Regions from separate parts of the Homo sapiens genome. Here region 1 is linked to region 2. A link means that fine-mapping ties the variant in region 2 to the expression of a gene that starts in the linked region. Tissue or cell type: whole blood. Region 2 holds a variant in brackets; the other region holds the start of a gene. All regions are shown on one strand. Distances are between the middles of the regions.

Region 1 (5,458 bases), 310 kb before region 2:
TGGGTGTGAAATGTATGGATTTAGCTTTTGCATAATGATAAAGGCCACCACCCCTCACAACATGTTGGTTTTAAAGTCACTGATAGACAATCTTATCCAAAACAACTCCAACCAAATCACCTACTAACTACAGTTACCACTTTAGTCCTGATGGTTTATGTAACACAAGTTAGCTCAGCTATAATTGCACTTCAATAAAAATATATCAAAGCTGGAAGAGGTTAGGAACTCAGGGTTTTAGTTGGTAGCATTACTACTAATAATAGTAACATAATAATAATAAGGCGAAGAACAACATTTCATGGAAATCTACAGGGAGAGATAACTTGGCAGTGTAAAGAGGGAGGCCTCTGTGTTCAACTATTACTGCCTCTGCTTAACTGTGTGACCCAGGCAAGGTACTGAACCTCTCTGTGCCTCTATCTCCTCGCTTCAGAAATGAGAAAAAGCCTAGCGCCTACCTCGCAAGCTGCAATCCCTGGCACACAATAGTCACTAAATCTTAACTGTTGCCAATAGTGTTATTGTTGTTGTTGTTGTCATTGTCACTTATTATTACTGCAATTTACAGAGAACTTTCACATACAATAGCTAATGACTATTAAGTAATAGCACAAAGAAATACTTAATTTAAAGGGTAATTACATCACATGTCAAGTATATGGGAAAGGGTATGATTTCCACCAGCATCCTTTGTGCTTGCCTTCTGGTTTGTCAGAAAGAGCCAGTCATATCTAAATTGTGATTGGATGGATGTAAAAGGAAGTAACAGACAGAGTAGTTAATAACAGCTAACATTTATGGAGTACTCACAATGTTCCAGATAGTTTATTCAGCATTTATATGCATTACCATTATTTAATCTTATTATAAATGTTACAGCTGAGGGATGGAGCCAAGCCAGGTTCCATAACCTTCCCAAGGTTACTGGGGAGTCAACCCAGGCAGGTTGACTTTGGAGGATGTGCCAGACCACTACCCTCCTGCCCAGGACTGACTTCCGTTAGAAAACAAACGTGCAAAACATTCTGATCATTTTGCTTATTATCAACAACAGAAACAACCAGTATTGTGCTCATCTCTCTAAATGAAGACACAGGCACATATTCACTTTACAGGAGTTACCCTTTCTCTGGACCAGCAATCCTCTTAGAACCGCTAATGAGGATCATCTAAATTCTCATCCCTGGTGAGCAACATTTTTCCTTGTACTTCTTGAATTCTAGCTTACATATTTAACATAAAATTATATGTTCAATCATTCAATAATTCTGGGATTCCCTTAAAGTGTAATATCAACCAATCCCAGTTACTAAAAAATGTCACAACAAAAATACCCCTTGCACTAATATCCTTGCACTAATATCAGGGTTCTTAGCAAGCAGGTCAGTAATCAACAAATCCTGAATTGTAAATAAATATTATATGCATATATATATATATATATATATATATATATATATGCATTTTCCTGTTCTGGAAGACAAGTCCATTCATTAGATTGTTCAGAAGGCCCCAAAATGTTAAAAAAATGACTATTCATTTAGATAGAGGGCCTCCCAAGACAAATTACATCATTATATTCATTTTAAAATCTTTGGGGGTTCTCAAATGGAATAAATACTGCAATTCAATGCCTTATGATTTCATGCCAGCGTGACAGCAAAACTCATAAGGGACAGGATTCTGGATTAAGAATGAGGAGACTTGCTCTAGCAGAAATTCTCTGTATAGGTGACCTTGGGGAAATCACTGAAAATTTCAGGACTTTGTTCCATGATCTGGAAAGTGACTGTGTTTTAAAAGGTGATTTCAGGGTTTCCCCCACAGCTCTATGACTCTATAACATAATAATACCACAGGTGCAATGCAAAATAAGACAAAAATTACTCCAGCCACTTACATCGCTAATGAGTTCCGTGCATTTTCTGGCCAATTCCATGCTTAAGTCTTCAATAACAGGCTTATAGAAGACCTATTTGAAAAAAAAGAAAAGAACAGAAAGAACATTTTTCTCATTGTCAATTTAGAGGAACAAACGCTGGTCTGAGTATGTGTTTTCTCACTCACCTGGTCTTCTTCATTTTCTTCTTCCCCTATCTTTTCTTCTTCAGTTTCATCTTTTATATCCTCAAATACAGGGACCCTCATTTTTACCCTTTAAAATATTTATATTTTTAAAATTTACTCATGTGGCGTCCTTTTCCATACCACAGTGCCCTTGAGATGCTGACGTCTCTGGTGCTCTGGCAGAAATGCCCTTGCCCAAGCCTCAGCCCTATTTAGCCCACACTTCACTCCTTATCTCAGTGGTGTGTGAGTGAACAGAAAAGGATCCCAGAGGTCTACCAGGCTGGCCTCACAAGTGGAAATAACATATTCTTAAGCAAAATTTGATTTTATGAACTTTTAAAGTCAACATTTTTTCCACTGGTTAAGAAATCCAAAAGAAAAAATTTATTTATCTTTTACTAATTCTATTCATTCATAAAAGAGCATAAAAAGGACTTAGAGATTCTGGGAAAACTACTCAGCTCTAACACTCAAGATAGCACAGTCCAAAGCCTGTTATCTCAAAGATTCCTTGTCTCTGTCTAAATAAAGCTTTCACTGGAATGTCAGACTTCCTTCTGACTTGGGGTAGTGAATCTGGATCATTCAAACTCATTTTGTCAACCTAAATTATATGTTTTATCAGACATACCAGTACTTCTCACATCCTAAAAAATACCCACTTTATATTAGCTGATTAGAGGCTACTTATTTATTATGAAAAGCCCTTTGAACCACTTCAAAGAATCTATTCTGAGTTAATTATGACTGTTAGTATTATACTGGCGAGTATGGTATTGTATTAATTGTAAACATCATTAAACATGAGAAGTTGCAGTTAACATATGTTGATACATAATTTAACAATTCTGGAAACATCGTTTCAAAAATCATCATCATCATCTTTGAATTCTGCAGTTCTACTCATCATGTCAATTTTTACAAAGTCATTGGTGATTTGCATTATTACTCAATGGGCACCCCACATTCAGAAAAGTTTGGAAAAATAAACCATCACAATATTTATAATGTAGTGTATGTCCTTGGTTACGTAAAACCAAGGTTAAAAAAAAATTTCTCAAAACAAATATTTTAATGTCAATTCAGGCAATTCCAAGACTCCCTACAACTCACAATTTATTAATCTGGTTATGTAAATCCTAGGGTAAATTAATTTTACCAAGTCATAGCACATTAGCATTGGGCATAAAAAATACCCTACACTGAATAGTAATACTGATGATACAAAATACAAATTTATTAAAAATAGTATGTCATTCTAAGTAGCCAAGCATAATTTTTTCTCTTGATATCATATCTAGTTTTCAATGTACTGTAAAAAAAAAATGCCTTGGCCTTACCTAAACTGAAAATCCTGACAAGAAAAACATTCTACACAGTCATCACGTATAAATTATTTCTGAAATTGTGTTCCATGAGGCAAAAGTTCCACAAAAGATTCTGGGGGAAAAAAGCAGGTTTCTTAAACAAATATGTTTGGGAAATCTGTACCCCAGTCTCTGTCCCTGCCACTTAGAGATCTACAAGGCATATTGACATACTAGAAGTTCTGAGAAGACCTTCAACCAAAAAACCTGCTTAGGCTTGCTTAACCTCGTGTTCCCCTGAACACAAACCTGTTTATCTCATCAAATCTAATCCAATTTAATCTAATCTACCTACCTACCTATCTACCTATCTTTTTTTTAATCATACCCACTACCCCAGAAAACTAACACTCCTCTGTGAAATATGACCGACTGCTTAGGGAAACATTGCTCTATTCTCCTAAAATGTTGTGTTCTAGAAGGAGCTGTTGGTCTTGAACTAGTTTTTGATACAGGCTAAATTAATGGTATCACATATCCTGTTCACCAACAAAATACCAAAAAGAAATTGCCTCAAGCATGCTGAACTTGGAAACCACAACTCTAAGATTACAGCCATATCATGCTGGCCCAGTGTAGTGGATTCCACAAGGACATTCCTTGTATATTTTATTTGTTCCGTAAAAGGAAAGAATGTGTGCATTCCAATTATTTCCCTCAAGTCCTCTGCTGGCCAGAAGACTATTCTAATATTCTATAGATCTATTACATTATCTTTATTTGGAAATAGGGAGGAGTAATTTCTGTAAACTTGTCTTGCAAATTTCTAGGAGTGTAGGGAGAAAATCTTGCCAAAACTGCCTGAGACACACCTTTTGGCTCATATTTGAGGAGACAGTACTGGTGTTACTCAGGGTGACACCTATTCCCCAAGGTGAATTACCTTCATCAGGCTTGCAGTGCAGTTATTTCTCATTTCCCATCACGTAATATGTTCTTAGGGACTCTTCACTGTGCTGCAAGAAAATAAGCTGTTGAGATTTAATGCACAAACTTTTGAAAACAAAAACCAAACACCACGTGCAATGTGAACACAAATTTTCCATTTGAGATTCTAGAATCAGAATTTCAAGCCAAAGGGATCCTTAAGAAATCAATACACCTAAAGCCCTCTCTTTCACAGATGACAAAATGAAGGCTATGAAAAATTATGTGTCTCATTTACAAAGCCATTCAATGAAGCACTAGGATCAGAACCTAACTAGAGACCTGTGTTCATTTGTTCAACAAATAAATGTTGTTATGCCAGGCACTGTGCTTGGTGTTAGAGATAGAATGGTGAATAAAATATTCTTCATACTAAGATAGAATTGGAAATAAAATACTCATCACTCAACACTTGCTGGATGAAGTCTTTAATGGATCGTTTGGCAAGCTAGAGACACCATTACTTTTGATTGAATACATCTTTTTTCCTCTCACCTATAATATAAAATTCATGCAAAGTTTTCTCTAAAAAAGTGTTAAGCCCTGCACTTCATCACAGCAAAGTTTTCTTGTCAGTAGCTCTAAAATATGACATGGAGAATATGAAGAAAGTGTTCCTCATGGACAGCTATCATGTTTCAAAATCCCCTATCGACTTTTCCAAAAACCAAGCTTAATGTATTTTAATAGATATTTTCACCTTGGGTTGCTCCAAAAGGCAAAATCTCTGTAGCTGCTCATAGCTTTTACTTATTGGGCACTTCTTTTATGTTGTTTACTTTTCTACTTTAGTACTCTACGCATGCCTTGATACAGAATGAGACCAAGAGACATCACTTATGGCTAAACTCTCAAAGTCCAGGTCTGGCTCTGCCATGTCCTCTAGGGCAAATTATTCAACCCCTCACTACCTCTAATTCTTCATAGTTAAACAGAAAAACTGAGTTGACAGAAGTTAATAAAAAGAAAGCACTGGCTGGGTGCGCAGTGGCACACGCCTGTAATCCCAGCACTTTGGGAGGCTGAGGCAGGCAGATCACAAGGTCAGGAGTTCGAGACCAGCCTGACCAACATGGTCAAACCCCGTCTCT
Region 2 (5,458 bases):
TACACGTCAAAGATGGAGAAACAGAAAGATAATCAGTGCCTGGGTCCAGAAGGGATTGTTGCCCTGCTGGGGAAGGCTATCCAGGCTGACACTGTCTTTCCTTGCACTCCACGATTATCCTTGTGGAGCCAGGAACTGGTGTCACGCTTGTCAGGATGAGGGACCTTAGAATTAAACCAAGACCAAAAAGAGGATACAGCTGATAGAATTTCCCCAAAACCAGACCCATTTGGTTAAGCTGACCCTAAAGCCCCAATTGCTCAATACCTCCAGTTCCACGAGCCTCAAAATGTCCTTATTGTTTAAGATCATTTGAAGCAAGGTTTCTGTTCCTTGTAGGAAAAACATCATGGGCAGGGCATGGTGGCTCACACCTCTAATCCCAGCACTTTGGGAGGCCAAGACAGGCAGATCACCTGAGGTCAGGAATTTGAGACCAGCCTGGACAACATGGTGAAACCCTGTCTCTACCAAAAATACAAAAAACTTAGCTGGGTGTGGTGGCAGGCGCCTGTAATCCCAGCTACTAGTGAGGCTGAGGCAGGTGAATCACTTGAACCTGAGAGACGGAAGTTGCAGTAAGCCGAGACTGCACCACTGCACTCCAGCCTGGGTGACAAGCAAAATTCTGTCTCAAAAAAAAGAAAGAAAGAAAAACATCCTAACTAAGAAAACCAAACTCTCCAGTCCAATACATATACTTCTAACAGATTTGACATTTATCTCATTATACAAATATGCAGAAAGAAAATTAACATTAGGCAATATAACATTGCTGCCATTTTTAAGGAGGAATATGTATATTTTTACAAACAAAAATTCAAAGCAAAATCATACAATTAAATGTTTGTGTCAAGTATGTTTTTTCCATATCATTCTATGTATCTTGTAAGGCCTGTAAATAGATTAAAATTTTTGTTGTTACTTATTCCCACTGGTTCTGGAGTCATGCACTAAAGTGCTGCATTTTTAAGTTTCAATAATTGGACTCCTGAGACTCACAGAGAGGAGGAACATACGTTAAGATATCATATTCTATTCTCAACATGTGACTGTCATTATCTTCCAACTCAATAATGCTTATAAATGTACACGCTATGTATGAGCTACTGTAAGTCTTTAAAAAACCTGTAGCTTTACATTTACAGCTATCCTAGCCAGTAGGAGTTAATTTTAGCTGGGTTGCACCTATTGTTTCATGCATGCCCTCTAGGTTCTTTGGAAACACTGTAAAATATTATGACCCAAAAACAGAAAACCATGATCCATATCCTCAGTCACGTTTTCTTTGACATGGGCAACATGTCACAGATTCAGTAGGAATAAAGGCCACTCGCAGAAAGAGGAGATAGACTAAGTCTCGATTTGATCATCCTTATCAATGCTATGTAGGAAAGGAAAGGAAAATCCTGGCATGAAAACAATCAAAAATAGTCATTGGCCGAGTGCAACAGCTCATGCCTGTAATCCCAGCACTTTGGGAGGCTGAGGCTGGAAGATCACTTGAGAACAGGAGCTTGAGACTAGCCTGGGCAACATAGGAAGACCGCGTTTCTACAAAAAAATAAGAAAAATTAGCTGGGTGTGGTGGTGCACACCTGTAGTCCCAGCTACTAGGGAGGCTGAGGTGGGAGGATCGCTTGAACTTGGGAGGTGGAGGCTACAGTGAGCTGTGACCTTGCCAGTCTGGGCAACAGAGTGAGACTCTATCACAAAAGAAAAACAAACAAACAAAAAACAAAACAAAACCCTAAGGTTTTTTTTCTCCTGAGTTAGCTGATGTGTGCAGTCAAAAACCCTCTCTCCAGTTAACTGGAGAAAAGACTGGCCCCTTTAAAGATCTTGCTTCCCTGATGAGGAAAGCCAATGAGCTGCCATCTCCTCTTGAACAGAGATGCCAAACCCAGTTACGTCAACTTCAAAAACCCGTCTGAGTCCTTTTGTAAAGGTAAAATTTTGTTGTGACAAATGTTTGTTGTGTCAATGAAGTTGGCCATTGCCAAGGGAGATCCTTTTGTTGGGGAAGGATCCTCAAACCAGCAGTGATTGTGATGATGGAAACGGATCTGTCGTCATGGCTTCATTCATTCTCCAATGGTAATTGGAGAAGCACAGAATTTCTCACTCATGCTGAGGTCAGAAATCTTTCATAAATGACCTACCAAGTTACTATCAAGTGTGTTTGCTCTTATGTAATGCTAGTAAATACATTTCAGGGTTTTAAATCACTCAATTCTCTCTCTCTCTTCAGATATATATATCTATAAACATATGTACATATGTAAATGTTATGCATATATTATTATTACATATTATACAACTATTACACAGTATACATATAATATATACTATGTTAGATACAGTATATATACAGTATTATCGCTACATCTGAGTGACAACACTATATATACTACATATAATACTGTGTACAATATATGTATAATATGTCAGAAAGATAATACAAATATATGATTTATTATGTTACATATAATATACATATATAACAACTTGTAAATGTATATATATCTGTAATGTACAACACAATCTTTTTAATCTTTCAGGAAATTCACTGAAAATTAAACTGACAAACAAAGATTTCCCAATTAGTGCAATCCTGGCC[C/G]CAACTTTCCTTGCAAAGATTTCGAACACCCAGCGCTAACGTCTGGACAGCGCCTACCCCTCCTCAGAGTGATGGGAGGAAAGAAGGAAAGGCAAGCAACGGCTGAAAAGATGGAAGGAATAAACCAACACTCGTCATTTCTCAAGAGTTTGTGAAACTTCCCATTTTCTGTTAAGGAAGTAAATTACAGAAGCTTCGGTGAAAGGGGTGGAATCACCCGGTTCTTCAGCTTTGCTTAGCTTGTTGGATGACCAGGGACATCTTCAGATTTTTGTTACCACACCTGGCTCCTGAGCCAGGTCCTTCAGTGAGTGCTTTCCAAAGGCCCTGTGGCCACTTGCGACTTCCACTGGCTTCTCGTGTTTCGACACTAGTTTTATTTTTGAAATACTTGCCACTTTTCATCATAGGAAATAGCTGGCTTGACTACCGTTCTCACTCCTTTAGCTGCTGTGTCAATACTTCAAAACATTCAGTCAGTTAACTCGATTCAGTCAAAAATTGTCACAATGTTTAGCATTGTGTTGACAAAGCCTATGGCTTTGGAGAAAATACAGCTCATTAAGTTCTTAGTGATTCTTCATGGTGCAGAGCTACACGGTAGCAGCTACAAATGTAACCAGACCACCGTGACAAAACGAAGGCAATGAATTAATATCGGAGTGCTCACCATGTGCCAGGCACCGGTTGGAATTTAGCCATGTCTCATCTCACTTTATCTCACAATAACCCAAGCCCTTCAAGCTGATGGTTGCCCAAAGTTGGATTGAAATGATAGTTTATTATGCCATTTCTGTTTACTCACTAATACTCAAAGAATGCAGAAAAAGATAAGCTTGACAGGCAAATTTCAGTTGATGGTTCAGTTTCCTTGAACTTGTATTTGGTCTTGTTGCAGACTGATTTGACTCCCTTTAAAAAATCAGAATGTAGAGTGTCTGGGTTCCTGTGCCCAGAGAAAGGACATTAGAGAAGATTCAAAACAGATGGAGATGTAGAGCTGGTTGAGTGCAGGCGGAGGAAAACCGGAGAGGAGCGGAGGACGGGGGAAGCTTCAGTCTAAAGAACAGTGTCTATAAAATGCACTTTCAAAACAACACTGTCTGAATGCCTCCTTGTGTGCAAGTTACAGGGCTGACCAAGAGATTTTTAAGTAACCAGGAGAAGACACTAACTTTGCTAATGAATAGCCAGGAAGTGTTAATGAGGCATTCATGAAGATGCTCTCAGGACTTAGCAATGAGAATGTCCCGAGGCAGGGAACCAGGGCAGGAGAAGGCCTGGGGCGACCTGGGCTTGAGGAGTAGAGTAAATAGAGAAAAACCTTAGAAATGGGTTCTATAGCAGCCTTTAGCTATAATGTAAGTGGAGTTTATATCTTAAATAAATTATTCTATTTTTACTGCAAATATTCCTCTCTTAAAAGGACCAACGAATATCTACACATTATATACCTGCTCATCTTCCATGTTCTGTGCCCAGAGGAAGTCCAACAAGCTCGAGACACCACACATCATTTGCGAGGGAAAGGACAAGGTCTTCCTTAAAAGCAATAAACTGTGTCTCCTGGACTTTTATGTAAGTATCGGCTGGTAAAGGGAGTTGTCACAGACAATAGATTTTCCCCACAATTATAAAACTCAGCAGTTTTGTGTCTTGAATGATGATAATACAGACAGATAATTAAATCTTAACTTCTGTCTTAGTCTTCTTCAATTCTCAACAATGAATTGGTAATTTACTCATGAATTTCATGTATATATATGTATATAATATATATGTATAAGTATATGATATAGATGTATATATATCATATATGTATATCATGCACACACACAAAAGGCAAAGAAAAGTGCTTTCTATCTTATGTTTTTTCAAATTAAAAATTTGTATCTTGCACTTATTTTTAGTGGTATCAAATAAAGCATTCTTTGTACTTTCTGAAGATTTATTAAGACACTAGTAAGCCTTTATGCATTTGTGCTAAGGGAAAAAGGAAGAGAGGGAGGAAGGAAAGAAACAAGAAGAGAAGAAAGGAAAAGGATCTCCTCAGTATAACTACCCCATACACACATGGCACACACATGGCACACACATGCACACACACGCGCACATTACACACATGCACACACATGCACACATGCACATTACACACACATACACACATGCACACACATGTGCACACATTACACACACGCACACATGCACATTACACACACATATACACATGCACACACATGCACACATATGCACATTACACACACATGCACACATGCAAGATTGTTGGGTACAGTGAGGAAAGGGTTTTTCAGGTGCTTCTTTTTTAACTGCTAATTCATGGTATTTACAGAAAAGTCAGAAAATATATAGTATGTAAAAAGGGAAAAAATGGAAATCACTTTTAATTGAAGCTCCCAGAATTAATCATTGTCAGTATTTTTGGCTACACTCCTAATATTAGTGTCTTTAAAGAGAATATCCTGTGTTCTTTTAGAAAAGAATAGGAAATAAATTAAAGGACAGGCCCTGCTGTGTCTCTCTGCCCCCATCTCCTGGAATCTAGCTCCCTTTTCCCTGCCGGGGAGGAGCAATAAACTGTGAAGCCCTCCCTGTGCCACCTGCCTCACCCCACCCTGATCCCTCCGACCCCATGAAGAGATGTCAACTTCCACTTGGCCAGAGTTTTAAATCCACAAAACTTGAAGATTAGAGCGAAATAACTAAAATGAACTTTTAGTTTCTGTCTTCTTACCTAACATACAATTTGGTTAGATTTGCACAAATTAGTGGCATGTGGTGGCACGCACCTGCAGTCCCAGCTACTCAGGAGGTAGGGCA

The links. PIP is the estimated chance that this variant, and not a neighbour inherited with it, causes the effect.
Region 1: it holds the start of NEBL, and the variant in region 2 is fine-mapped to the expression of NEBL in whole blood (TOPMed, PIP above 0.99). The same link has a PIP of 0.9 or more in T cells, blood mononuclear cells and monocytes.

Annotation. Positions count from the first base shown.
Region 1 is chr10:20,895,055-20,900,512 of GRCh38, forward strand. It overlaps NEBL (nebulette), which reads right to left and starts at 2,257. Exons shown (of 28, transcript NM_006393.3): 1 at 2,071-2,257; 2 at 1,904-1,975. The coding sequence starts at 2,151.
Region 2 is chr10:21,209,758-21,215,215 of GRCh38, forward strand. It overlaps a transcript of NEBL not described here. Among named protein-coding and RNA genes, the nearest start is that of NEBL-AS1, 38 kb to the left of the region's middle. The variant C/G (reference allele first, on the strand shown) is at 2,621.